Regions from separate parts of the Homo sapiens genome. Here all the other regions are linked to region 1. The links come from fine-mapping of genetic effects on gene expression. A gene starts in region 1. Each other region holds a variant in brackets. All regions are shown on one strand. Distances are between the middles of the regions. Region 1 holds the start of SMIM12 (small integral membrane protein 12). Region 2 holds the start of GJA4 (gap junction protein alpha 4). Region 3 has its middle 22 kb from the start of GJB5.

What was found.
Region 2: its variant is fine-mapped to the expression of SMIM12 in testis (GTEx, PIP 0.94).
Region 3: its variant is fine-mapped to the expression of SMIM12 in nucleus accumbens (GTEx, PIP above 0.99). The same link has a PIP of 0.9 or more in caudate and putamen.

The regions. Positions count from the first base shown.
Region 1 is chr1:34,853,911-34,863,945 of GRCh38, forward strand. It overlaps SMIM12 (small integral membrane protein 12), which reads right to left and starts at 5,839. Exons shown (of 2, transcript NM_138428.6): 1 at 5,767-5,839; 2 at 1-2,072. The coding sequence starts at 2,067. The coding sequence ends at 1,789. RefSeq lists an enhancer at 1-611 and a silencer at 5,661-5,790.
Region 2 is chr1:34,792,734-34,802,768 of GRCh38, forward strand. GJA4 (gap junction protein alpha 4) reads left to right here and starts at 266. Exons shown (of 2, transcript NM_002060.3): 1 at 266-335; 2 at 1,464-3,014. The coding sequence starts at 1,481. The coding sequence ends at 2,482. RefSeq lists a silencer at 1,529-1,683 and an enhancer at 7,552-7,601. The variant G/A (reference allele first, on the strand shown) is at 5,728.
Region 3 is chr1:34,727,828-34,737,862 of GRCh38, forward strand. No RefSeq gene overlaps it. Among named protein-coding and RNA genes, the nearest start is that of GJB5, 22 kb to the right of the region's middle. The variant A/G (reference allele first, on the strand shown) is at 5,138.

The sequences.
Region 1 (10,035 bases):
AGGTGGAGGTTGCAGTGAACCAAGATCGCGCCACTGCACTCCAGCCTGGGCAATACAGCGAGACTCCATATTTAAAACAACAACAACAACAACAACAAAAAAAAACTACAGACTGCCAGGCACGGTGCCTCACACCTGTAATCCCAGCACTTTGGGAGGCCGAGGCAGATGGGATCGCTTGAGGTCAGGAGTTCGAGACCAGCCTGGCCAAGATGGTGAAACCCCTGTCTTTACTAAAAACACAAAAACTAGCCAGGCACGATGGCGCACGCCTGTAATCCCAGCTACTTAGGAAGCTGAGGTAGGAGAATCGCTTGAACCCAGGAGGCAGAAGTTGCAGTCAGCCAAGATCACGCCACTGCACTCCAGCCCGGGTGACAGAATGAGAGTCCATCTCCAAAAAAAAAGAAAAAAGAAACTACAGGCCAAGGCCGGAGGATCACTTGAGCCCAGGAGTTTGAGACTAGCCTGGGCAACATAGTGAGACCTGGTTCTACAAAAAAATAAAAAAATTAGCTGGGCATGGTGGCATACTCCTGTAGTCCCATCTACTTGAGGAGCTGAAGTGAGAGGATCACTTGAGCCCAGGAGGTCAAGGTTGCACTGAGCCGTAATTGTACTGCACTCCAGCCTGTGTGACAGAGTGAGACCCTGTCTCCAAAAAACCAATTATGATGACCATGTAAAATGGGAAAATGATAATAGTGAGAAAAGTATATAAAATTAAATGTACAGTAATGATAACTATCTCTAAAACCTATGCAGAGAATTAGTAAAAGACAACAAAATGTTAACGGTTGTTATTAACGAGCTGGGAACATGGGTGACCTTTTTAAAATCCCTACCAAATTTTCTTGAATGTGCGTATATACTTTTATAGGGAAAGGCGTCTATGTGTGTGTATGTGAGGTCTACCTCCATTTAGACTTGAAGGTGCTGCAGCCAATTGTAATAATGGTAAAAAGGTTCCTGGGAATCTGTGCCTCCAGGGTTCAGTGCAACCGCACTAGTAAAGCAGTTTCCAGGGCTCCTTGGCACCCTTTAATACCAATGTTATCCTGCTCTAAAATGCCTGTACTTGCCTAACTCCTAAGAAGACCCCCAAATACCACCTGGATGATAAGATTCGATCATTATGGTTCTCAGATACCACTTTAATCAGGTTTTTCACTATACAGTGATGGGGGTAGAAGATGGTGACTGTTTTCAAGCAAATTCACGAGGCACATGTTCGTCCCTGCCCCAAAGTGAACAGTCTGGGCTTCCCAGAACAGAAAAGTGCTTTCCTTCCTGGGGGAATCCCATTCCTGAGCTGACAAGACAGATTTCAGTAAGAATGAGCACAAAGGATAGGGCAAAATAGTGAAGGGAGCCAGGTGCATATTTGAATTCTTTCCAGTGCAGACTGGAACTAGACATGCAGGTATCCCTCCTAAAGGCAACGCCCAAATCCCAGCCATTCCCACTAGAGGCCAAACCGCCTGCCCACAGAGATTGACAGCCAATGTTCATCTCATAACTCTCCTCCCAGCAGTGCACCAGTAAACTCAGATGCCTGAGTGCTTGTGGCCACCACACAACAGATGCGGCCTTCCTCTTCACTGGCCCCTCGGCTGCTGCTGGGTCTGCCTGGCCATCAAGGAGCAGCCAGTATTTGTGTGGCTGTGTGGTGTGGGAAGGGCCAGAATAAGCAACAAAGCCAATTAGATGTGGGTTCTGGGGCTCTGTCAACATGGTAGCAGGACAAGTCACCACCCACAGTAGGACCATAGGGCCCTGTGTCCTCCATTAATTCTTCTCTGGGCGGTTTCTGTTCAGCACAGCTTTCGGGGCAAATTCTAGCTTGTCCTTAAGGCTCACCACCTGCGTGTGGTCCTTGCCTAGAAGCTCATCCAGCTTGCGATCCTCCCGGCGCTCTGAGATGCTCTTTTCCTCCTCCACGGGCTGGGGGTCCTTTCCCCTGATGAACCATTCCAGGTGGTAACCCACAGCCCCGACCACGAAGGCAACAGGGAATGTGACATAAGGAGCATAGGTACGAACCACGGTCCAAAACACAGGCCACATGACATCTGCGGAAAAGCACAAGGCAGCATTAGAGAACCCAGCATCATCTCCCACCAAATAAGAGCAACCCACTAGAGCTCTCCACTTACCAGGCAGCCTGGCACAATTTTTTTTTTTTTTTGAGACGGAGTCTTGCTCTGTCGCCCAGGCTGGAGTGCAGTGGCACGATCTCAGCTCACCGCACCCTCCACCTCCCAGGTTCAAGCAATTATCTGCCTCAGCCTCCCAAGTAGCTGGGATTACAGCTAATTTCTGTATTTTTTTAGTAGAGACAGGGTTTCACCATGTTGGTCAGGCTGGTCTTGAACTCCTGACCTCGTGATTCACCCACCTCAGCCTCCCAAAGTGCTGGAATTACAGGCGTGAGCCACCACACCTGGCCAGCCTGGCACAATTTACTGAGCACCCACCCCCGTGCAGAGCAATGCGAGAGGTGGATCCCTGAAATAATCTAGGAAATTTCAAAAGATTCCATTGTTAGGGAAGAAGGAAGGATCTCCATTTTACGGACCGTACTCTTTGACAAGTGTGCACCAATATATGACAATGTTCCCCACAAGGGGACCTCTGAGCCTTACCTAATAGAGCTTCAAGCCTATTGTTGACCCCAGGACCTAGTCTGCCAACATTTCAAGAAGGGAAAAAGATGCCTTTCTCTGCTCTATGAAATTTCTCCATGAGCACAGCCGGCCACCTTTTCCCCATGAAACACAATCTACGATGAATCTCCTGGTTTCACAATATGAAAAGTCGTTCCTTTTCCTCATGTAAAGCATAAGGAGCATATTTAAACAGTCAAATACATAATGCATTACCTAATTATTCTGGATTTTAGGTAAATAGATAATGGTTTTATCCTGTTCTGAACCTGGCTTTTCTAACAATGGAACAAACCTATACTTTACAAATCTGCTGACTAAACCATTTTCAAAATATCCTATCTTGGCTAAAGACGGTGGCTCACACCTGTAATTCCAGAACTTTGGGAGGCTTGTAATCCCCATTACTCAGGAGGCTGAGGCAGGAGAATCACTTGAACCTGGGAGGCGGAGGTTGCAGTGAGCTAAGATCAAGCCACTGCACTCCAGCCTGGGCGGCAGAACGAAACTCCGTCTCAAGAAAAAAAAAAAAATCCTATCTTCAACCAAACCCATACCTTCATATTTACATAAAAAGCTCCTGAAAATATCACAAATCATTATACATACTCTGGATACCGCAGAACCTGAAGATTTTCTGTGAAAAATCACTGTACAAGCCCGGGGGGTGGGGTGGGGTGGGGTGGGGCGGGGAGCGGAGTGGAATGGCCTCAGGGCCTCCTGAATTGAAGTAGGGCAATACCAAAGTAATGTAAAAACACACAAATTGGATCACTCTAATGGCCAATTCCATCTCAAATGATTATTACCATTATCAATTATCAAAGATCATTCACAGTTATAATAACACAGCTACCATTTATTGAGCACTTACATGCCAGGCCTTGGGCTAGGTGCTTCATATACACTCACTCTCTTAATCCTCATGTCCACCACGTGAGGTAGATACATAACCCACTATCAGAGGGTTAAGAGACTTGCCCAAAAGTATCCACTAAAAGATCTTTCTGTTTATGCCCCTGTAGGTATTTCTCCAACACTACTATCTCTGATCTAAAGTGAACAATCGAAACCTCACCAAGGATAAGATGATTCTCCCCCTCTCTCTTTGGTTCCAATTCTCTTTGAAGGAATCCCAATGTTCTCTAGACGTAACACTATAAGGCAGCGGTCCCCAATCTATATTTGGCACCAGGGACCAGTTTCGTGGAAGACAATTTTTCCACAGATGGGGGTTGGAGAGGGATGGTTTCGGGATGAAACTGTTCCAGCTCAGATCATCAGGCATTAGATTCTCATAAGGGGCACACAACGTAGATCCCTCACATGCGCAGTTCACAATAGAGTTTGCACTCCTGTGAGAATCTAATGCCGCTGCTGATCTATCAGAAGGTGGAGCTCAGGCGGTAATGCTTGCCAGCTTGCCCACCGCTCACCTCCTGCTGTGCAGCCCAGTTTCTAATGGGCTGAAGACCACCACTGGTCTGTGGCCCAGGGGGTTAAGGACCCCTGCAATAAGGCAGCATCATGAAATTTAAAAAAAAAAAAAAAATTGCAGCATCTCCAAGACTCCCCCGCTTATTGTCTCAGCACCAGGCACTATGATGACAATTTACACACTAATCATCATTTGATCCTCATAACACCTCTATGATGTAGGAATTATTAGCCCAGACTCTTGTGAAGGCCACAAAGGCTCACAGACATTATGTTAACTTATCCAAGATCACTAGAAGTGATAGAGCCACTGATTTTGAACCCAGGCCTCTCCAATTTCAAAGCCTACACTCTTTCTAGTGGGAAGAACACACTGCAGAGGTATACGGTTTCTGTCCAAACCCTGGACTTAGGGAGAGCTTCCTACAGTTTTTTCCCATCAGCCTGGCATTTCATTACCTAGAAGAGCTTTCCTTTTCCCAAACTCTGAGATTGTACTCAGGGATTTATGAAATTCAGAGACATAGTAATAGTTAAAAGAGGCACCTCTGAAGAATCCCAAACCTAATACTTCTCCATTTTACTTCCACCTTTAAAGCAAGTCCTCTGTATAAGTAAATGCTTCCCTAAATAGCAACTGTCCGTTCAGATTTCCAAACCTGTCTTAAAACATATCGCGCATGAGTTCACAACTATCTCTCACATGCAGCATAAAGTCTCTCGCTACCGTCCTGCTCACATTCTAATCATTCCCAAATAAGTCAATTCATTCCTTTATTCGACACTTATAACCACTTACTCTGTGTCAGGCACGATGCTGGCTTACCCTGTCTGCGTTTCTCAAGACACTTTAAGCTCCAAAAGGCTAAGAACCGTGTCTGTCTGGCCCAATTATGCCCTATCCATCCAGGCACCTCTCCTACCCTGCCTGGCAGAGTGCCCAAAAAAGGTCTGCTGAACGAATGAATGACAGCCCAAACTCCCTAGTGTAAAATCACAACATCCTCCACCCACTCTCCCCCAAAAGGTGGCAGGAGCATAACAGATGCCTTTGCTGATTACAAAAACCTAAAGACTCCATCATAGTCGTCCCCAGGCAGGGTATCACAATGAAAGAGGCAAAAGTGTCTGAAAAACACTGTGACGCATATTTCCAGCCCGGCATGGAGGACGTCTGCCAAAAGCATCCGGTAAAGGTCAACTGGGCTGCTGGGAAACCTGCCCCAGTGCGAGGGCCCGGAGGCCCAACGAGGCCAGAAGCCGTAGTCCCAAATTCAAGAACTACTAACAAGGACACAGGAGGCCTGAGAAGGCGGAAGAATTAGCCCTGACAGTCACTAGAGCGCAGTCCAGGAATGGGAGCGCAAGTAAGGCGAAGGTCCATCCAAATGGCTACCCTTCTCCCTTCTGTGAGTCTCCCGGTCCCCTGTCCCTAGCCCACCTCATTCATGGCCTCATCAACGTCCGTCCTCATTGAGGTGCCGAGAAGCCCTGTCTGCGGAGGGCTACCTGGGCTCCCAGACTTGGCACCAGAACACCCGCCAGAGAGGGGAGCTGGCAGATCTGGCCGGGACCGGGGTGGACCCTAGCGATCACTCCTCCCGTAACTCAGAGGTTACTGGCCTGGGCTGACCCGACCTGCTCGCCGGGACCGCGCGCTCACCTGCGGCCCAGCCCACACTCCCCAGTGCGGCCCCCGCTCTCCGCCCGCTCGCCGGGAGCACGGAAGTCGCCGCACCCAGCGGCCCGCGGGACCTTGCCCTGTGACCCTGCCCACTGGCCGCCGGCTCTCTCGGAGCGCAGGGATTGGCTGAACTTCAGCCAAAGGACGGAAGGAAGCTAGGCGTCCGCAACTGGGCCCCACTGCGCTGAAATGGACGTCGCGCCCTCTGTTGGCCGGGAGGTTTCTCAGTGATGTCGCCACGTGTTTTCTGCGTGGAAAAAGTGAAAGATCATCCAGTCATTTTTTTCAACTGATGTTTATTAGGCGTCTTCTAAGACCTAGGTCTGGGCACGCAAAAACAAAAGACATGATCCCTGACCTCAAGAAGCTCTTCTTAGAAGAGTATATTTTAGTGCTTTAAGACCTCTTGGGATCCGGGCTAGCTTTCTAGTGACCTTGGGAACATTATTAACCTGTCTGAGCCTCCCTTCCCCTTCTGTGTAGAGGTAATAACACCCATTTCGCAAGGATGGTGTGAGGGTTGGAAGAGATAATATTTGTAAAGTACTGTGGCAGGCACACAGCCAGCAGGGAAATAAATGTGGCTATTGTTAGTGTAAAAATAATTCAAATATAGTAAAACCTAAGTCTTACATGACCTCTTGGGTACAAGTATTCACTTCCTCCTCTGTGTCCCCACTGTACCCTATACAGACATCAATTTTATCATATACAGAAAAGTCCCAAAGCTCAAGCTTGTTAATGCTCCCACAAGGCCCTTCCCACCCTCATCCCACTAATCTCAGCCTGCATATTTATTTTGCTCGCACATACTAAACCCGGCAGACCACACTGTTTCACACCTCAGTGCCTTATTGATGCTTTTTCATCTACCTTCCCACCTTTTTTGTTGTTGTTGTTCAATTTCACTCTTGTTGCCTGGGCTGGAGTGCAATGGCGTGATCTCGGCTCACCGCAACCTCCGCCTCCCAGGTTCAAGTGATTCCCCTGCCTCAGCCTCCTGAGTAGCTGGGATCACAGGCATGCACCACCACGCCCGGCTAATTTTGTATTTTTAATAGAGAAGGGGTTTCTCCATGTTGGGGAAGCTGGTCTCGAACTCCCGACCTCAGGTGATCTGCCCGCATCGGCCTCCCAAAGTGCTGGGATTACAGGCGTGAGCCACTGCGCCTGGCCGCTTTTTTTTTTTTTTTTAACAGGACTCTCGCTCTGTTGCCCAGGCTAGAGTGCAGTGGCACAATCATAGCTCACTGCAGCCTCAACCTCCTGGGCTCAAGTGATCCTCCCACTTCAGCCTTCCGAGTAGCTGGGACCACAGATGCACACCACCAGGCCTGGCTAATTTTTGTACTTTTTGTAGAGACTGGGTTTCACCATGTTGCTAGGGCTGGTCTCGAACTCCTGAGCTCAAGCAATCCGCCCGCCTCAGCCTCCCAAAGTGCTGGGATTACAGGCATGAGCCACCGTGCCTGGCCATGTAGTGCCCTTCCCACCTTTCTTTACTATGCCAGATTGTGCTCTGGCACAATTTTCAAGCTTAAGGGTCACCTCCAGAGGAAGCCTCATACATAGACTGCTTATCACATTAGACACCCTTCCTCTATTATCTCAAACAGCTCAAAGCTAAGCTCTGGCAGTGAAGATGGAGAAAAGGGAACAGTATTGTAGGGGCCAAGGTTCACTGAAAATCAACTGACAAAAGGCAGATTAATAGGAGAAAAGACATACAAAATTTTATTTTAACGTGCATAGCACGGGGCGGGGAGGCGAGGGGGTGGGAAGGGAAGGGTCACAGGAGAATGATTACCCAATAACCCAATGGGGTACAGAAGCGTATACACTCTTTTTCATAGGGGAAGGGGAGAGATGGAGAATATAGACAATTCTTCTGAGGGCAGCAAGTGATTCTTAGGGCGAAAAAATGGACAGAAATTAACTTGTAAATGATTCTCTTTAGAATTTGAATGAGCCCGAGAAACAGGCATCATCTTGTGAAAAATCCATCCAGGCGTAGTTGCCTTCCTCAGTCTTCTTTTCTGAGCTAGATGAGATTTCGGAGAGGGGAGGAAGGCAATTTTGTTTCTTTTGGAAAGACGTTTTCTCGATCAGATTAGGAAATTCTAGAGAGAGTGCCTCCCTATACTTGGGAGAGAAGGTTAGAGGGACCTTGATTCTGAGGCAGCTTCGAAGGCCTCTCAGCATGTCAAAGCGCCAGTCTTTGGGGTATCGCTTTCTGAGCCCCAACAGTACAAATAAATATTTAGGAGACCGTTGTTAGCAGAACCTGCTCACTAACTGAATATGTGGAGAGGAGAAGGGAACAGAACTGTCCAGAGTAACTGGCATTTGGTCAGCCAATCATGTGCTAGGCAATGGGGATGCAAAAATGACTGGGACCAACCTGCCTCCAGAGTTCTCTGACTAAAGAAACAGATGGGTCTACAAAATGTCAATAGAATGTAAGAAATGTGATGACAGAAGTATACACACGCAGCACAGAGGAGGATCTTCAGCCCAGCCAGGAAGATTCAGGGAAGGCTCCCTAGAGGAACCAAGCCTTGAGCTGAGTCTTGAGTCATGGCTAGCAGTTCCCTCAAGCAGAATTGCTGAGGGGCTCAGGAGCATAGACTGAGAAATCAGATAGCCATGGGTTCAAATCCTGACTCTTGTCTGCTTATCTCAGAAAAGCTATTTACACTCTTTGTTTTTAAAAAAAGACAATAATAGTACCCACTCCTAGGGTTGCTATGAGTATTAAATCACCTAAATGTGTATAAAGTGCTTGGCATAGTAGTTTGCACCTTCTCAGTGCTCAGTAAATGGTTATTGACATGTTAAGTATTTCCCAACTGTATTGCTCCTTCTGTAATGTCCTATGTCCATTCGTGGCATTACTCATTCATTAAGCCAGAAATCTGAGTGACACCTTCAAGGCGTCCCATCTTTACATTATTCTCCAGATCCAGCTTACTGCACTTATGCCTCCTAAATGTCTCTCAAAGTCAACATCATTATCTCTTACCTGGACCACTTTAGCAGCTCCCTGAATGGTCTCCCTGCTGTCTTGTTGCCCCATCCAGTCCATTTCCTTTCTTTTGGCCGTAGTTTCATCTTTCAAATAAAACTATGAGGTTTCCATCTTAGCCTCCCACCCCCAACTCTATGGGTCCCTTCTGGCCGTATCTCCTCCACGCCCTCCACAGCCACCATAACCTGTCACCCTCTCCAGCCTATGCTTTCATTCCCAACACACATGTGCTTCCATGGCTTTGCCCAGGTTGGTCCCTTGGCCAGAAATGAATTTCTCCCTTCTCTTCCTTGACTACAAAATGCTAATTCATCCTGCAAGATCCAACTCACAAGGCAGAAGGCTTTCCCAGACTGCCTGTGCTATGGTTGTACCCTCCAAAACTTACACTGAAATTTGTCATTGTATTAAGAGGTGGGACCTTTAAGAGGTTATTAGGCCATGAGGGCTGCACTCTCATGGGTGGATTGACACCCTTATAAAAGGGCAAGTTCAACTCCCTCTTGCCCTCTCTTGCCCTCTCACCTGCCATGGGATGACACAGCAAGAAGGCCCTCACAAGTTGCCAGCCCCTTGACACTGAATTCCCCAGCACCCAGAACTGTGAGCCAATAAATACCTGTTCATTATAAGTTATCCAGTCTGTGGTATTGTTATAGCAGCACAAAATGGACTAAAACACCCTGGTTGCTAGAGGCTCTCTCCTCTCAATCCCTTGGCCCCTCTGGGAGAACAGGTTTCCCTTTGCACCATAACTTTCTGTTTATATGCTGGCCATGGCCAGACTGTAAGCAACTCAAGCAAAAGGACTGGACCTAATCTTTCACTATCTATGGGGCTCAGCATAACTACCTAGGCCACAAGAACCAAAGGAGACTCATCCACACCAGACATGGAAAACTCTATGAATAAAGTCATAGACCCATAAAATGCTGTATAAATGTAAAGGTTAAACTCAGACTCAGCCACTTCCTGGCTTCATGGTTTGAGGTAAGCTGTTTAAACCTCTCCAAGCCCATTTCCTCATCTGTAAATGGGGGTGAAAACAATATCTGTTTTACAGCATTGCTCTGAGTTCAAACCTCACCCATGCCCCCAATTTTAGAGATGATAAAACAACCTCAGAGAGGTAAACTGACCCAGCCCTTCTACTGGAGACCTTTGGACAGTCATCCAATTTAAGTCTTCCCAAAGCTGGCTGCTCAGAATCTTGTGAAGCA
Region 2 (10,035 bases), 61 kb before region 1:
CTGGCCAAAGAAACGACAGGAGAGTTTACTGTCTGGAATACCTGGTGGAGAGAGAACAGAGGAGAGGAAGGGTAGGTCAGCCCCTCTTGCCCCTCCCCACCGCAAATCACACAGGCCCACCTCCCCGGAGTGGGTTTAGGGAGTCTGCACCTCCCAGTCCCCGCCCCCGCCCTCTCTCCAGCGCCCGCCGCCCTCCCCGTCGCGTTTCCTGCCCCCACCCCGCCCCTCTGCGCTATTTAAGGCGCCCCCGCCGCTCGTGCGGTCCAGCAGGGCTCCCGCGGGCGTCACTCCGGCCATCGTCCCCACCTCCACCTGGGCCGCCCGGCAGGCAGGCGGTGAGTCGGGGGCTAGGAAGGGACCAGGGGCGCCACCTGCTCGCGGGAGGCCGGGAGGAGTCTTGGGTCCTCCGATGCCGGGACGGGGGTTGCTGCGGAACGCCCGCCGCGACAGAGCCGCGCTCACCCAGGTGGCCTTGGCCAGGCTCCCACCCTCTTTCCATGGAATCCTTGTAACAACCCGAGGCGGGAGGAATACTATTGTTTCCACTCTATCGTGGAGGAGACTGAGGGGCCCAGAGGTTGTTCCTTATCCAAGGGGCCGCAGTTACTAAAAGGCAAGATTTGAACCCAGGGCCGCTTCCAGAGCCTGGCTCTAAACAGCTTTGCACTTGGGAAGAGGCACCTCCCCCTTGGGAACTTTGTGGCCTGTGCCTCACCCTGCAATGACAATTCCTTTCAAGAGTCTAGAATTTGCCAGCATCAGCTTTGGAGGTGGAAGGGGGTGGGAGTGGAGGTGGAGGAAGAAGACAGGACCAAATGTCCCTCCTCAAGTGGCAGGTGGTCATTATTGCTGACCGGTGGAGCTAAAGGATGATGCTGCCTTCAGCTCCTAAAACCCCTTCCACTACCCAGCCCCTGCAGGCTCAAAGATTAGAGTGAAGCCAGCTGGGTAAGATATGAGGCGGGGAGCAGGGACCTGAGGCTTTGAGCCCCCTAAGAAGCAGAAGATAACACCTCTACCATCATCACTAGCTCCCACTGTCTGGGGGTAGCCAGCCTTGGGCAAAAGGGAGGAAGGGCTTAGCCCAGCTGCACAACTTTGGATAAGTTCCTCAAATTCTGTTCCCATAGGCAAAGGAGCCTCAACTCCACCCAGATTTCCTTGGCCTGTGTCCATCCTGGGGCAGTGGCTCGGGGACAAGAGGGACATAGATGTCTGATTAGGCAGGGACCTTAGCCAAAGCAGAATGAGACCATACAAAGAGGTGGGCAGCCATCATCCAAAAATCTGGGTTGGGTCCTGCCTGCACTGCTGAGTGGGAGCCTCCAGGCCAGTCCTTCCCCTTCCTGAGCCTGGGTTTCTTTGTAGGTAGAACGGGCGTGGCAGACCTCCCTGCAGGCTTGTTGCTGGGCGAACGAGAAGGATGCCATGCTGACACACTGACGTGCTCTGTCTCCTTGCAGACGGAGGCCCGGGAGCCATGGGTGACTGGGGCTTCCTGGAGAAGTTGCTGGACCAGGTCCAGGAGCACTCGACCGTGGTGGGTAAGATCTGGCTGACGGTGCTCTTCATCTTCCGCATCCTCATCCTGGGCCTGGCCGGCGAGTCAGTGTGGGGTGACGAGCAATCAGATTTCGAGTGTAACACGGCCCAGCCAGGCTGCACCAACGTCTGCTATGACCAGGCCTTCCCCATCTCCCACATCCGCTACTGGGTGCTGCAGTTCCTCTTCGTCAGCACACCCACCCTGGTCTACCTGGGCCATGTCATTTACCTGTCTCGGCGAGAAGAGCGGCTGCGGCAGAAGGAGGGGGAGCTGCGGGCACTGCCGGCCAAGGACCCACAGGTGGAGCGGGCGCTGGCGGCCGTAGAGCGTCAGATGGCCAAGATCTCGGTGGCAGAAGATGGTCGCCTGCGCATCCGCGGAGCACTGATGGGCACCTATGTCGCCAGTGTGCTCTGCAAGAGTGTGCTAGAGGCAGGCTTCCTCTATGGCCAGTGGCGCCTGTACGGCTGGACCATGGAGCCCGTGTTTGTGTGCCAGCGAGCACCCTGCCCCTACCTCGTGGACTGCTTTGTCTCTCGCCCCACGGAGAAGACCATCTTCATCATCTTCATGTTGGTGGTTGGACTCATCTCCCTGGTGCTTAACCTGCTGGAGTTGGTGCACCTGCTGTGTCGCTGCCTCAGCCGGGGGATGAGGGCACGGCAAGGCCAAGACGCACCCCCGACCCAGGGCACCTCCTCAGACCCTTACACGGACCAGGTCTTCTTCTACCTCCCCGTGGGCCAGGGGCCCTCATCCCCACCATGCCCCACCTACAATGGGCTCTCATCCAGTGAGCAGAACTGGGCCAACCTGACCACAGAGGAGAGGCTGGCGTCTTCCAGGCCCCCTCTCTTCCTGGACCCACCCCCTCAGAATGGCCAAAAACCCCCAAGTCGTCCCAGCAGCTCTGCTTCTAAGAAGCAGTATGTATAGAGGCCTGTGGCTTATGTCACCCAACAGAGGGGTCCTGAGAAGTCTGGCTGCCTGGGATGCCCCCTGCCCCCTCCTGGAAGGCTCTGCAGAGATGACTGGGCTGGGGAAGCAGGTGCTTGCTGGCCATGGAGCCTCATTGCAAGTTGTTCTTGAACACCTGAGGCCTTCCTGGTGCCCACCAGGCACTACGGCTTCCTCTCCAGAATGTGGCTTTGCCTGAGCACAGACAGAGTCAGCATGGAATGCTCTTGGCCAAGGGTACTGGGGGCCCTCTGGCCTTTTGCAGCTGATCCAGAGGAACCCAGAGCCAACTTACCCCAACCTCACCCTATGGAACAGTCACCTGTGCGCAGGTTGTCCTCAAACCCTCTCCTCACAGGAAAAGGCGGATTGAGGCTGCTGGGTCAGCCTTGATCGCACAGACAGAGCTTGTGCCGGATTTGGCCCTGTCAAGGGGACTGGTGCCTTGTTTTCATCACTCCTTCCTAGTTCTACTGTTCAAGCTTCTGAAATAAACAGGACTTGATCACAAGTAGGTGTGTATTGATGCTATCATGATGTGCTGGGGGTTGGGGGATAGAGTTATTTTGCCCAGGCTTCCTTTACTTCTTGGTCCTGTATAATCTCTTTGGTCTCTATAACCCCCGATTCCAGCCAACACCTTGAACCCTCAAACTCATACCTTCTGCCTCCAACAGCCCTGATTTCTAAATGCTCTGCCTTTTGAAATGCCTCAGACACTATCTTCTTTTCATCCCCACTGCTCCAGCGCATTAATCAGTGGTCAAAGCATAAACGTCCTTGCCCTCCCTCCCCCATGCCCATCGTCGCCCTGGCCACACTGCCCCCTGCAAAGTGCTTCCTTACTGGATGGTTTGCTCTCCAAGCGTGCCTGCCAGCCAAGCCCTTCGCAGTCCAGTTCAGATGGGCCCTGCACTCATCCCACCTCATCCTCATCCTTGGTATTTGGGAAGGGAGGTTTAGGTCACTAGTCCTTCCTACCTTGGCCCTTTCTAGTCTGCCCACCAGGAGAAGCAACTGAAGGATTTGCTTCATATCTGCTCTCCATGCACCCAGACCTCAGTGAGGACAATGGCAATGTACAGAAGTGGAAGAGACTGAATCTTGCCAATGAGCCACAAAGGCTGCAGAAACAAAATGAACAATTGAACTGGGTCTTGACTAGGAGTTCACTGGGGAGGGAAAGAGAACACTGAGCATTCAAGCGGAGAAAACTGTTTGTGCAAAGTCAGAGGAGGGATTGACAGGCTGAGGGGGCATTTAGGTCCTGATGAGCCACCTAGATACAGGAGGCGTGGCTGAGGATGGGCCCACTGCTGGCAGAATTGACCTATGTGGAGGCGACCCAGGTAGGGGAGAGCACTAGGTAGTGACCCTCAGAGGCAAGCTGGTTGTCCTCCCTTCCCAGGGACATCTGGGGCTAGGGTTGAAGAAGGAAAGGGGGTCTCTCTGATGTGGCCACATGCTTCTCCTTGAGAGCCACAATGCCTTCACAGCAGGTTGGCAAGTTGGCCCCTCTCCCATCAGGATGGGTGTTGAAAACACCAGCTCTGTACCCCTCATCCAGAGCTCATTCGCTCACTCGCTGCTTACCCAGCGAGTCTGAATGCTCAGCCTAATAAATTACGACCCTCTTCCTTTTCCAGCTGTGGTTCCCATTGTTCCCTCTGAATCGCTGAAATCGATCAGGCCAGCTTCCTCATGGCTCCCAGATTCACCCAGTATGTTCCCACCCTGCCCCTGTGTCAGCATGCAGCGTCCCTGCCCCCCACACTTCGAAACTCCACAAATCCTTTAAATACTACTGGACCCTGGAAAAGGGCTTGGTGCGGAAGAGTGAGATGAGCTTATCACCAGAGGGCCCTGAATTTAAATGCTGTGGTCTGGAGTCAATCATTTCGCTTCTCTGAGTCTCAGTTTTCTAACCTCTAAAATGCAAATAACATCACCTGCCTCACAACTGACTGGAAACCAAATAAGTGAAAGTATGTGACTGTGCCTGGCTCAGTAGTCATGCAGTAAAATTAAGCTCACACCTTTCAGCCAGACTAACATAGGCTCTTCCTCCAGGAAGCGCTCTCTGACTTCTCCAGCTAGTCTCCGGCAATGACCTCTACCTCTCAGGGATCTGAACCACTGCTTGATTGAGTGAGGCTGGGCTCAATCCTGAAAGCCTCAAAAAGGAGGCTGTTCACATACTGGAAGTCCATGACCACTGGAAGTTGAGGTCCCTGTCTAAGAGATTCTCCTCCAGCCAGGGTGAGAGGCCAGAGGCTGCAGGTTAGAAGCCAGCGTTAGAGCCAGCATTACCTGAGGGGCTTCAGAGCCCTGGTTTGGTGTTTCTGTTATCCCCAACCTTTCCTACTTTGGAAAGGTAGGAGAAGAAAGGTTTCAGTGAGCAGAAATGGCATCCTTCCCCTCCCTCAAAGCTCACCCACTCTGAGCTTGGTGTCAGAGCCGGGGTCAGGCTGGGGCTCAGGAACTTGGACCTTTGGCAAGACAAGTTGGGTCCTAGACTGGCGGCCACACAAACACAAGCACATATGGGCTGGGGGTTTAAGAGTGAGGACAGTGTCATGGGGCTGGGATCACACCATTTGGGTTGGGGGTATGGTGAAGACTTTATGGAGAGAAGAGTGGCTGTAAGCCCCATCCCACCTGTATTCCCTTGCCAAGGCTACTGTACCAAAGTACCACAGACTGCACGGCTTAAGCAACAGAAACTGATTCTCAGTTCTGAAGGCCAGAAGTCTGAGATCGAGATATCCGAAGGGCTGGTTCCTTCCGAGGGCTGTGAGGGAGACTGTTCCAGGCCTCTCTCCCAGCTCTGGTGTTTTGCTGGCAATCTTTGGCACTCCTTGGCTTTTAGACGCATCACTCCCATCTCTGCCTTCATCTTCACCTGGTGTTCTCCCTTTACCTGTGTCTCTGTGTCTAAATTTCCCCTCTTTATAAGGACATCACTCATATTGGATTAGGACCCACCCTAATGACTTTGATCTAACTTGATTACCTCTGAAAAGACCTTATTTCCACATAAGGTTACATTCTGAGGCATTAGGGGTTAAAACTTCAATATATCTGGCAGGAGGCACCATTCAACCCATACCACCACCCTCGTGGCCCCACCTCACCTCCAAGCACTGGTCAGGCACGGGGCTCTGGAGAATGCTAGGTTTGTTGGACGCAGGCATCTCCTTGGTGATGTCACTAGGATGAAACAC[G/A]GCAGGTTCACACCTTTCTTTTCCTTTGTTTCCTTCTTCCTCTCACCAGCCTATCCCTTGCTGCCACCAACCAAAATCTAAGTTGACAGCTAGTGGCTCTCAGTTAGAGAAAGAGCCATCGTTTGGAGTTAGGAGACTTGGCTCCTACCTCACACCTCTCATACGCACTTGACTATGGCTCTTTCCCTTCTCTAGGCCTCAATTTCCCCATTGTGAAATGAAAGGGTTGGATGAGAAACACGTATGTGACAATTAGGTATGAGGAGCGTTGCGTGTGGTAACCTGTCACTGATCATTGATCTGAAACTCATGAGTGATGTGCTATTTCGCATGAATCAGAAAAAAGTCAAGGTTGTTTCTACAATAAGATTAATTCCAGTCGCTTAAATTCACATTGCCTTCCTAAGTAGGAAAGACAGGGATGGGGTTATGTGGAGTGCACTGGGAATTTTGCATAACCCAAGGTCATCTTATCTATGACGGATGGGAGCATGAGAACATCACGGGCTGCACATAAACAAGGCTGTCAAGCTGGGTGATGTCAAAACTTCTTCCCAGTCTAACATGCTGGCTCACTGGCCACTGGCTTGCCAGCCTCATGGTTCTATCACCTCCAGTTCCTTGACTGGGGATTCTTCGTTTTCACACCAACCTCAGCATGACTATTGACGTTTGCAGGAAGAGGTATCCATCACAGGATTGTCAGAACATCTCTCTCCACCTTTAAGAATCTCTCTCCAGACTTGGCTCTGATCCCAGAGCCACAGGACACCCAGTTCTGTCCTTCCCAAACAGTACTGCAGCCACATACAGACAGCCACCAGGTTCAGCCTGAGCCTGCTCTCCTCCTATTCCTCCAGATAATCCTGATTTCCAGAAGTCTCTGGCCAACCTGCAATTTGTTTACTTTCCTCTTTTTTTTTTTTTTTTTTTTTTTTTGAGACGAAGTCTCCCTCTGTTGCCCAGGCTGGAGTGCAGTGGCAGGATCTTGGCTCACTGTAATCTCTGCCTCCTGGGTTCAAGCAATTCTTGTGCCTCAGCCTCCCCAGTAGCTAGGATTACAGGTGTGAACCACCACGCCTGGCTAATTTTTGTATTTTTAGTAGAGATGGGGTTTCACCATGTTGACTAGGCTGGTCTCAAACTCCTGACCTCAGGTGATCCACCTGCCTCGGCCTCCCAAAGTGCTGGGATTACAGGCGTGAGCCACCATGCCTGGCCTAATTTCCTCTTAACATATGCCACCCTCCCTGTATGCTGGATACGACACTCCAGTTGGTCCGAATCCAGATTATTGCCTCTCTTGCCCCAAAACTTCTACCTCTCTTAATGCAACCTAAGATTATAATTTTTTTTATTTTCTCCTCCTTTACATATATATAAATTCTTTTGAATTATAAAGATAATGCATGATCATTGTAGACAGTGAATGAGATCCTACCATCCAGAGGCAACAACTGTTAATATTCAGAAGTAATTCCCTCCAGCCTTCTTCCATGCATATTTTAAAATAAAATCTTAGTAAAGATATACCTACAATTTTATATTATGCTTTTTTCATTTTATGATAAATCATTAGTTTTTTCCCATGTCGTTAAGAACATATTTTTGGAAATACCACTTAAAGGCTTTATCAGTGCCTACTTAAACCATGACCCTGATATTGGATTTTTAGGATGTTTGCAACTAATCATCCTCTACTATAAATGGTACTGTGATGCAGATGTCTGTACCTAAATGTTTTCCAAATTTCTATTTCCTTAAAAGAAAAAGATATTCCAAGAAGTAAAATTACTGGGTCACAAAGTAGGAAATCTTAAATAAAGAAAATTTAGGGGCTTTTATCTGATTGTGAAAGTGATTCATTGTGGGTGACTCAGAAACACAGAAAAGCACAAATTACAAGAAATGAAAGCACAAACTGCCTCTGAGTGGGAATTGGGGTGGAGCTGAAAACAGGAGAGTTCATTGAAAGCACCTCGGCCTGGGGATTCCATCCCTGCACTGAGCAGCTAGGTGACCACATCTTCCCAACTCTGTGAAGAGGTGGAGGTTTATTCTCTGGAGAGGATAAAACAGAGAAATGCAGCCAGGTGCAGTGGCTCACGCCTGTAATCCCAGGCGGGAGGCGGAGGCGGGCGGATGTCTTGAGGTCAGGAGTTCGAGACCAGCCTGGCCAACATGGCGAAACCCCATCTCCACTAAAAATAGAAAAACTAGCCAGGTGTGGTGGTGTGCACCTGTATTCCCAGCTACTCGCACTCCAGCCTGGGTAACAGAGCGAGACCCTGTCTCAAAAAAAAAAAAAAAAAAAAATCGAGAAATGCCAGGCATAATTGAGGGTAGGAGCACCATAAATAAAACAGAGGAATTAAGTGGAAGTTTACATACTGAACAGTGGGTCCTTCTGCCTTCTCCCCAAAATTGGCTTCCAAAACACTGGCTGATGGATCAGGCTTTGAAAAAAAAAAAGAGAGAGAGAATCTGATCTAGCCTGAGGTCATAGAAGCCTGCCTGCAGGAGGTGGGCTTCAGAAAGCCTAAAACGTGAGAAGGAATGAGCTAGGAAGAGATGGGGAAGAGCATTCCAGGTAGACGGAATAGCACTTTCAAGGCTCTGAAGAAGGAGGAAGGGGCTTGATATATTTGTTGTTCAGGGTTGTTTTTGATACAGACTGCCAAGCTGCTTTCCAGAAAAAAAAATTACTTATTCGTTCAATAGCATTGTATGAAAGTGCTCATTTCAAGGTATGCATACAAGCATTATTGTAATTTTTAAATTGCTTTGCCTATTATTAATTATTAAACAGGGAAAAAATGGTATCACGTTTCATGAGGGAGGCCTGATTACTAGTGAGTGTAGACTTCTATGTGTGTGTGTGTGTGTGGCAGGTCTTACTCTGTTTCCCAGACTGGAGTGCCGTGGTACAATCTCAACTCACTACAACCTCCATCTCCCAGGCTTAAGCAATTCTTGTGCCTCAGCATCCCTAGTAGCTGGGATTACAGGTGCGTGCCACCATGCCGGGCTAATTTTTGCATTTTCTTGTAGAGATGGGGTTTCACCATGTAGCCTAGGCTGGTCTCAAACTCCTGGACTCAAGCAATCCACCCGCCTCGGCCTCCCAAAGTGCTGGGATTACAGGCATAAGCCACCATGCCTGGCTAGTGAGGGTAGATTTTTTAACGTATACTTCTTCAGCACTTATGTTTGTTCTATGAATGTTTTTTGCCCATTTTTCTATCAGGTTTTACTATTTTCTGATCAACTTGTATAAACTCTTTATAGGTAGAGGATATCAACCCTTCATCTGGCATATGTTATAAAAATTTTTCTGTATTATTTTGTTCCTTTGTCTGCAGATATTTTTAATTTCTATGTAGTCAAATTTATGGACTTTTTTCCTTTCCAGTAACTTTAGGCTTACACTGTTATCCCCTTTTCAATATTATTTTTAATTTTATACTTTAACCTGGCTTGAACATAATAGGAGAAAAATAATTATTGAACAAAAGACAAAGCATGAACAAACAACCTAATTTTAGCATATAAGGTGAAGTGCTAACTTTTCCCCCCAAATAATCAATGGTTTTGGCAGCACTTATTGGATAATCCTTCCTATACTAATTTGTGATAACAGCTTCACTATACTATATGTAACAGACTACATTTTATAGACTACCTATAATTCTGTTCCATTAATCTGTCAATTTATGTGATACTACCACTCTTTTCATTAGTGTAGCTTTCTAACACAATCTTTTCGGGGTTTGGTTTGGTTTGGTTTGGTTTGGTTTGGTTTGGTTTGGTTTGGTTTGGTTTGGTTTGGTTTGGTTTGGTTTGGTTTGGTTTGGTTTGGTTTGGTTTGGTTTGGTTTGGTTTGGTTTGGTTTGGTTTGGTTTGGTTTGGTTTGGTTTGGTTTGGTTTGGTTTGGTTTGGTTTGGTTTGGTTTGGTTTGGTTTGGTTTGGTTTGGTTTGGTTTGGTTTCGAGATAGGATCTAGCTCTGTTGCCCAGGCTGGAGTGCAGTGGTGCGATCTTGGCTCACTGCAGTCTCCACCTCCTGTACTCAAGCCATCCTCCCACCTCAACCTCCCCAGTAGCTGGAACCACAGGCACACACCACTATGCATGGCTAATTTTTGTATTTTTGTGTGGAGACGGGGGTCTCACTATGCTGCCCAGGCTGGTCTCGAACAACTGAGCTCAAGCAATCACCCATCTCGGCCTCCCAAAGTGCTGGGATTACAGGCATGAGCCACCACACCCTGCATGTAATACAGTTTTAGTATCTGGTAGAATCCATTTCC
Region 3 (10,035 bases), 130 kb before region 1:
GGATGAAGGTCCCCTGGGTGATAGCATTTGGTGTCAATTTTGCTTTCTTCTGCATTGAAAGTGTTCAAGAATAATAATGAAGGTGCATCTATTATACCTACTCTGTGCTGCAGACTCCAGTAAATCCCTTATATATGTTAACTCATCTTATCCTAACAACAATGCTACAAAGTGAATACTGCTATTACCTCTATCTTACAGGACTGGAATACTAAGGCACACGGAGGTCAAATAGCTTGCCTACAGTTACACAGCCAGTAAGTGGCAAAGACAGGAGTCAGACCCAGGCAGCCTGGCTCCAGAGTCCGTGTGCTTAGCCATCAAGCTGTCCTACTCCACAGTGGTTAGACACTATTTCTACGAAAACAGTAAGACCATTTTTCTTATTTAAGAAAAGACCGCGTGCAGTCGTTCATACCTGTGGTCCCAGCACTTTGGGAGGACGAGGCGGGCAGATCATTTGAGGCCAGGAGTTTGAGACCAGCTTGGCCAACATGGCGAAACCCTGTCTCTACTAAAAATACAAAAATTAGCCAGGCGTGGTGATGCACAACTGTAATTCCAGCTACTAGGGAGGCTGAGATGGGAGAATAGCTTGAGCCCAGGAGGTGGAGGTTGCAGTGATCCGAGATCGCACCACTGCACTCCAGCCTGGGCGACAGAGCGAGACTCTGTCAAAAAAAAAAAAAAAAAAAAAAAAGGTTCATCAGCTTGGCTTTAAGGTGCCTTATGTTTCCAAAAGACACATCCCCAGGTCTTTGTTGATGATTCTCCTGCCTCCTTACCAGCTGGGGCATAGACAGAATTCCTACAAGGTAAGTTCAAGGGACATGACAAGACCTGGTCCAGGAAGCCCCATGGTGGAAAGGATGTTAAGGAGACCCCAGATTGTAGGCTTATCCCTTGGTGGGGTGAGAGGTCCATCCTGTGAGTCTACAGCTGACCAACGGTAAAGAAAGAGACGCCTATGGCATTCAGTTCCAAGCCCCAGACCCAGCCCATGCTTGACTCAAAGCCAGAAAAATGTGTTATGATAAATATCTGTTTCAAATGAGACCCAAATGGCTAGCAAGTGAGATCACCAGAGAGGCGGTATCAACGAATGCAGAGGTCTGAGACACAGGGTTCAATCTATGTGCATCCTTGGACTCTAGTACATCTGCAGAAGGGGTGAGGCAGGCCCACCAGGAGCTGTTGCCATGACGGAGGGAAAACTCATCAAAGGGAAAGGAAAACTGAGGTCCAAACTTGGTCCAAAGATGACCGTAGAGGAGGTTCTAGCACAGCTCTGGTGTGTCACTCCAGCTCTGGTGTGTGCTGCAGCACAACCCCAACCACCTCATCCCTGAGATCTGGCACAAGGTGGCCTCCAGCTCCTCACCTTTACAAGTTGAAGTTTGAGTTGTTTCTCTCCTACCTCCGTGGGTCTCTGCAAGCAGCTGAGCTGGGAGCAGCCCCTCAGGCCCTCAGCACACATTGTGACAAGCAGGAGTTGTGGCCCCTTCTGTCTGGGGGACACAGCTGATATGCTGGGCTTCAATAGGAACAGGAGACATCACCACAGCGACTTGGAGTATAATGAAAGGAAAGTGGTGGACACTCATGGTAGACAAAGGCACACAGGAGGGGTCCCAGAAGGTGCCCAGGGCAGCTTGGAAAGGGATTTATGGTATCAGGGTTTGCCTTGAGCAGCTAGAGGTCAAGTTGCTCATGGAGTGTGTGTAGTGTGAGAAGCAAAAGGCCCAGTGCCAATCCTCAAGCAGACAAGAAAGAAAGAGGGTATGCAAAAGAGACTAGGTCTGCAAGCCTTTGTGTCCTGGGCCTGCCCTAGTGAGGAGAGGGTCTGATTTCTTCCCACCTCCTTGTTCCCATTCCACTCCAGCCTCTACGCCTCCGCTTTCTCCACACTCAAAGAGCCTCTCTCCCCAGCTCGCTTCCCATGTCCCCATCCACCTGCACTGTTTGGGGACCCACGTCTGGGTCCTCCTTCCACTGAAGAGTCAAAGAATCAGGCAGGACTGCCAGGCTGGAGACAGAAGGGATCCTACTCTGGAAACTTTCTTTTTAAATCAGAGCAAGGAACAAATGGTTCTGCCATCCACTGGGATCACCTTGGGTTGGAAATTTAAAATGCATTAAGGTTGAAAGACCTATAAACATGACGTAACACGCTCTGCAAGCTGCTGCCTCTGTGACTTGCAGTCACAGGAGCTTCAAAGGGGACAGGCAGGCACACTCGAGGCCCACAAATGGGCACACACCCCCATACACACCCATCCCTGGAACATCCTCCTTCCATGCCTGTACACTTATGTGCATGCACTCTCCCCATAGACAGATACACACAGGTCTGTGCATATGATCCCCCAAATAGATGTGCATACACAGACCCTACACACACACTCATGCCTCATGTAGGAAGAAGTGTGCAACTACATGCAGCTCCACCCTCATGCATGAAGATACGCACTTGCTGCATCCACACATGTACACCAACTTGCACACAGTCACCCCACATACATGCACACGCCTTCACCCTGCATACACACAGACGCATACACACAAACCTCACTTATACGCGTCTCACAGAGATAAACCAGGCCTGGGCTCACCCTGAACCCGAGACAGACATTCTCACCACACACGCAGACACACACAGAGGTACACACTCACACACACTGACCCCACCCACACCTGCATGGATGTGTGCGGACATTCCTATACAGTCATCCAAATACAGACCTTCATGTGCATACACACTCACCCCACCCCAAATGGATGCATATACTTTACCCAAAGCAAAAATGTGTACAAACATCAATGCATACTCGCCCACACAGACTGTGCTCACATGCTCAGCCCACAGAGACACAACATAATCAGATAAACACTCAGCTTCCCTCCGACTTCAGCAACCATCTGGATGACCATCCGACTGCCTGGATTCTTGATTTTTTTGTTCTTAACTTTCTCTTCTCTGAAAATGGTTCCACCATTTGCCCAGTGGCTCGGGCCAAAAACCTGAGCAACTTCCTCACCCTCCACAGCCAGGCTACCTGCCATGTCTGCCTTGAAAGTATGTCTTGAGTTCAGTCAGTTCCCTCACCTCCAAAGCCATCACTCCACTCCGTGCCCCCATCTCCCCAACCCCAGGCCATTGCTATAGCTCCTCCCTGAGGTCCTTGCTTCCACTGTTACCACCTACAATCTGTGGCAGTCGGAGCAAGAGACCTTTTTGTGACATCAATTGCACTTTACATAAGTGCAGGCTCCTTACCCGAGCCTACAAGCCTACGTGATCAGACCCTGCTCCCCTCATGCCCTGCCCTCATCTCCTGCATCCCCTCCCCTTGCCCACGACACTCTCACCCATTGGCCTCCTCGCATTATCTCAGGTATACCCACCCCTCTCCTACTCAGGGCCTCTCTCCCACTGTTCCCTCTGCCCCTGACTCTTCCTATGGCCCACACTCATCTTCTAGGTCTCTGTTGAAACGTCACCTCCTCAGAGAGGCCTCCTCTGATTACTTAATCTAAATAGGACACTCCCCATTATTTTCATCCACTGGATCTTGCCTCCTGCATAGCACTTATCACCATAAGCACTTCTTTATGTTTACTGTCTGTCTTTCCCTCTAAACTTGCACTGTCCAATAGCATAGCCACTGGCCTCGTGTGACTATTTAAATTTAGATTTAAATTAACTGAAGTTAAATAAAAAAATTAATTTAAAGAATTTAAAATTCAGTTCCTGTCACACTAGCCACATTTCAAACCTGCAGTAACCACATGTGGCCAGTGGCTACTGCACTGAACACCGTGAGTTATTTCCATCGGCCCAGAAACTTCCCTTGGACAGTGCTGCCACAGACTGTAGCTTACAGAGGGCAGGGCAATGCCTCTTCTACTCACTAATGTGTACTCTGTGCCCAGCATAGGATCTGGCACATGGTAGGGGTTCAGGAAATCGTAAGTGAATGAACCCACTCATGTGCGCACAGTCATAAATGGAGATAGGCCCTTCCCTGTATCAAAGGCCTCATTCAAATGCCACTTCTTTCTTGAAGACTTCTTGTCTTCTTTCCTTTACATTTTCTTCCAATCATGATGCTTGCACCCCCATAACAGGCAAGTACTTATTATGAGCCACAGACCTAAGTTCACTGCAGGCACTTTTGCCCCACGTTGGCTGTGAGATGGAGAGGGAGGAGGAACTGTTGCGGGCCGTCTCTTCCCCCACTATCCATCTCCTTGGGCAGCAGAGGAAGGACATTAAAACCACAAGCCCTGGACACAGCCAACTCCACGGTGACACTCCAGCTCTGCCTTTTACTAGCTGTGACTTTGGACAGATTGCTGAGCCTCCTTGAGCCTAATTCTCTCATCTATAAAATGCACATCGTAATGCATACTTCATAGAACTGCTATTCGGAGTAAAAGAAATAACCTATGTCCAAGATGTTGTGCAGTGTTCCCTTTGAGGGTGTTGCAGAAGTAGGACTCATTGACATTCTACTTGCCACATACAGGGTCTGGTGAGGAAACCTCAGTTAGTTCGCAATTTATTCCAAAGATGTGTGGAATTCCATATAGGCGGGTGCTCCAGGTCACTGCCCCATGGCCTCATGATTAACTAGGCTCTGATTCTGACCTAGTGGCTGCAGCTCTGGAGCAAAACAACCGATTGCTGTATTTCCATAAATCGTTAAAATGATACTAAAATACTAATTTTTTTAAAAAGCAATCTATGATCACCACTGAACCCACACGGGGTCCTCAAATGCTGCTTTATCTGAGATGGGCCAGGATAAATAACGAAGCTTCCTCCATCTTTCTGACTTCAGTCTCTCCAGGTATAATGATGGAGGGCAAGGTCCTGGCCAGAATAAATTATCAGGGAGGAAGGAGCAGGGCCCATGAGGAAGTAGCGTGTATTGGTCCGTTCTCACACTGCTGATAAAGACATATCCAAGACTGGGCAATTTACAAAAGAAAGAGGTTTATTGGACTTACGGTTCCATGTGGCTGGGGAGGCCTCACAATCATGGCAGAAGGTGAAAGACCCATCTCACATGGTGGCAGACGAGAGAAGACAGCTTGTGCAGGGAAACTTTGCTTTTTAAAACCATCAGATCTC[A/G]TGAGACTTACTCACTGTCATGAGAACAGCACGGGAAAGACCTGCCCTCATGATTCAGTTACCTCCCACCAGGTGCCTCCCACAACACGTGGGAATTCAAGATGAGATTTCAGTGGGGACACAGCCAAACCATATCAGAGCTGGCTCAGGAAGAAGGAGGAGGAAATCAGAGGGAATTTAGCTATCAGGCAAAATCCAGCAGCGTGCAGTGGTGAATTCATGGGTTCTGATGCCAAACTGCCTGGGTCCAGTCCGGCTCCGTTCATCACTGTGAGACCTTGAACAAGTTGTTTATCCTCTCTGTGCCTTTGTCTGTGAAGCAGGGTTAATGATAATACCTACTTCAATGGGTTGTTTTAAAGAGTAAATTCTTTAATATATATAAAGTGCTTAGAAAGTTGCCTGGCACATGTTAAGATGTCAAGTTCTTTTTTTTTTTTTGGAGACAGTCTCACTCTGTCACCCAGGCTAGAGTGCAGTGGTGCAATCTCAGCTCACTGCAACCTCCACCTCCCAGGTTCAAGCGATTCTCCTGCCTCAGCCTCCTGAGTAGCTGGGATTACAGGTGTGCACCACCACGCCCGGCTAATTTTTGTATTTTTAGTAAAGACAGGGTTTCACCATGTTGGCAAGGCTGGTCTTGAACTCCTGACCTCAAGTGATCCACCCACCTCACTCCTGACCTCAAGTTATCCACCCACCTCTGCCTCCCAAAGTACTGGGATGACAGGTGTGAGCCACCACGCCCAGCCACATGTTAAGTTCTTAATGAGGGTTGGTTAAGTAAATTGGTGAAGAGAGTGGGGAAGGCTGAGAACTGGGTCTGGGGAACCTCCCTATACCTTTTCCACTCTCTTCTCTCCTAAGTCCCCTAACCAAACCTTCTTCCCATTTTCTTTGAAGTCCTCTCCACCACCTGATCCCAGGTAGACTCCATCAGAGACCCAAAGTGGCTCTAAAGGGAACACAGTGGCTGAAACAGGGGGAAGACATCCAGCTCTGCATCTTCACTATCGCCCAGGGTGAGGGAATTAAAACAACATTAAGAGGACTTGGAAGGGTCTCAATGAGGGCCAGGAGGTGCTCAGCATGCCTTATACATGAATACACCTTTGTTTAATTGGAAATCTTAGTGCAGCATATCCCTCTCTGAGTAGACTTCAGGCAGCTGTGATTCAGATGTTTCTAAAATACTGAAAAAATGCTGGTACTACAAAAATTGCCTGCATTTCAGTGCATAACAACACTACAGTGTACCAGAACTCCCAAATATTAAATGTTAAGAAGTCTTAGAATCCCCTTATCACTCCCAGAGTTCAGAGTGAAGAGCTGTTGGGAACAGAAACCATGGTCTGTCCATGGAGGCAAACCCTTGATGTTGTGGAGCCTGGGGGGGCCAGGGGTGTGGGGCAGTGGGATAGGGGAGAAAGAAGAATGTAGACAGAAAGAGAATAAATCATCAGAAAGAACAGATGGGGTATCAGGCCTGCAGTAGACAGGATCACAGCCCCCCAAAGATGTTCCCATTTTAATTCCTAGAATTTGTGACTGTTACCTTATAGGGCAAAAGAGACTTTGCAGGTATGATTGAGCTAAGGATCTTCAGATGAGGAGTTTCTACTGGATTCTCTGAGTGGCCTGAGAGGGAGGCTGGAGGGCCAGAGTCAGAGGAGATGTGATGATTGAATCAGAGGTCGGAGTGATGCGGAACCACAATCCAAGGATTGCGGGAAGCCTCTAGAAGATAGAAAAGGCAAGGAAACAGATGATCTCCCAGAGCCTCCAAAATGAACACAAACTGTGGCCCATTTTAGACTTCTCACCTCCAGAACTGTAGGATATTAAATATGTTACTGTTTTACATCATAACATTTGTGGCAATTGGTTACAACAATAGGAATCTAATACAGGATCCATAACAGACATGAGGGCAATTAACTCAACAAATATTTCTTGAAGGTCTGCTATGAGCCAGGCACTGCTCTGGGCATGGAGAAAAGAGCAATGAAAAAGGAGACAAATCCCTCTTTCTTGGAGCTTTCATTCTAGTGGGAAGAGACAGGTAGTAAATGAGTTACATAGGATAATTTCAAATAGTTAAAAGTACATGAAATTCAGTAGCTATTTTTATTCTTGCATTTGAGGGACCAATGGCACACCCAGGTGGACAGTTTCGACAGTCAGTTGGACTTTCGGCCCGGCTATTTCAAGAGTGGTTCAACTGCCATTTTACTGAACACCTACTATGTGCCAGACACTGTACTGGGCTCTCTCACATTGGCTAGCTTCTCTCAGCTTCCTAATAGTGGAGCTCTTAAGAATTTGGGGCCCCGGATGCCAAGATGAATAATTTATATCAGGCACCTAAAGGGCTGCATCATCTGGCCCACTATGTGTCACTGACACAAGCAGGAAGGATCAGAGCTGTCTGTCACCCCAGTTTTTCCTATAACTTATATCATAGGAGGCACTTCCTATGTGCCAGGCACTGCTCTAAACATTCCACGTGTATTATCTCATTATATCCTCACAAGACCCTTGAGAAATGGGTTCTGTTTTCATTCCACATTATAGCCAGGAGCACTGAGGCCCAGCCAGGCAGAGCTGGATTTTTTTTTTTTAGATGGAATCTCACTTTGTTTCCCAGGCTGGAATGCAGTGGCATGGTCTCAGCTCACTGCAACCTCTGCCTCCTGGGTTCAAGCGATTCTCCAGCCTCAGCCTCCCAAACAGCTGGGATTACAAGCGTGCGCCACTGCACCCAGCTAATTTTTGTATTTTTAGTAGAGACGGGGTTTCGCCATGTTGGCCAGGATGGTCTCGATACCCTGACCTCGTGATTCCCCCACCTCAGCCTCCCAAAGTGCTAGGATTACAGGCGTGAGCCACTGCACCCAGCCCAGATCTGGAATTTGAACCCAGACAGGGAGACTCCAGGGACTACTACCCTGCACTGCTCCATTGCTGGCACTTGGAGGACCAGCAGCCTTCCCTTGATGCAGGCCTCTTTGGAGAGAGGGAAACAGACAGAGGCCGCGCCTGTCTGTTTGCAGGCAAACAGAGGTTGCAGGCAGCGTGATGCCATGGGAAGAGAGCCAGCTTGAAAGCGAGGGGGACACGAGGTGACGGCCTGGCTCTATCCCTCTACCCCTTACTGAGGGACAGACCATAAGGAAGAACTTCAGATTCGCTAAGCCTCCGCTTCCTTTTGAACAGAGATCTTCATTCATTCATTCATTCAACAAATATTTACTGAGAGCTTTTCATGTGCCACACACTGTCTTCACGAATGTGATGTTCTAGCTAGGAAGACAGACAAGAAAACAAGTGACCAGACAAATAAAATAACCGCAAGCCGTAATGAGCACCACGCAGGGAGGTAGCCAGGGGCTTTGGGGAGAAAGCTGGGTGAGGGCCTATTGTGGATAATAACAGCGGTCACCTGGAGGGTCAGAAGGAGCCAGCCGCATAGAGAAGAGCAAGCATTCTGGGCAGACAGAAGAGCGTGTGCAAGAATCCCAAGAAGTTTGGGAACTGAGGGAGCCCAGTGTGGCTGCAAGCAGTGAAGAGACCATAGGCGATCCTAGTCCCTCTTCCTGGCTTATCGTGAGTATGAAAGAGGGCTGCACACATGTAGTAGACACTTAATAAATGTGAGATCTCCTCCTCTCTCCCCCAGGCTGGGTGCCACCGGGCCAGAAAGAGGCTCCTTCCCAGGGGTGGGGCAACACTCCTAGCCATCTTCAGCCACGAAACCCTAACAGCTCCTCGGGGTCCCCAAGCTCCAAGCCTCTCTTGCCACCATCAAAGCACACACTTTCTCCCTTTGTCTAATTATTCCTAATTGGAAGAAAAATTGTTTGGCAAATCAACTGGCATCTCCTCGGCTCCGGTGTCCTAGCAACCCAGCTCTCAAGGGGTGACACCAGAGAGGAGGCGCCTGCCGCCTCCACACTGCACAGAGTGCCAGGGAAGGGCAGGCATGACAGCTACACCCCCAGACTGGCGTCTCCTCTCTCCTTGGCCCCTCGGTGCTGCACCCCGCATGCACATGCAGTCGTGCACACACACACACACCCACCCCCCCAACAGAGGCCACCAGCACTTGACCTGCCTGAAACATAACCTCAGCCTTTCTGGAAAGCAGAAGGTGTCTCAGAAATAGATTTCTAATTTTCCAGCCACCTGCTCGGCTGAAAGATATTCTGGAGTTTATAATTACTTTTCAAGCACTTAACTAGAGCCTAGTTTCTAGGGCAGCTTGATGCATCTCCTAATGTTCTCCTAATGTTTATGGGGAAATCTCACCCTTCTGCTCAGCCAGGGTAGCAGGAGAGTGGCCCAGGCACGTCCCAGGGAAGGGCGCTGCCTCCTGAGCTCGGGCTTTGTAAAGATAGCAATACTGCCCTTGCGGGGTCTGAGGAAGGAGTCAATGAGATAATGCGGGTACAGCTCCTGAACAGGACACCGGAAGTCGAAGAAGTTCTCAGAGACTATTTAACAGTGGTTCTAACGAAAACAGGCTGCATGGGCCAAGCGCGGTGACTCACACCTGTAATTCCAGCACTTTGGGAGGCCAAGGCGGGTGGATCACTTGAGGTCAGGAATTTGAGACCAGTCTGGCCAACATGGTGAAACCCTGTCTCTACTAAAAATACAAAAATTACCCGGGTGTGGTGGTGGGCATTGGTAATCCCAGTTGCTTGGGAGGCTGAGGCAGGAGAATTGCTTGAACCCCAGAGGCAGAGGTTGCAGTGAGCTGAAATCACACCACTGCACTCCAGCCTGGGTGACAGAGTGACACTCAGTCTCAAAAAAAGAAAAGAAAAGAAAAGAAAAAAAAAGAAGAAGAAAAAAGAAAACAGACACAGACAGCATGGCCTTCACCTCTGGGAGCA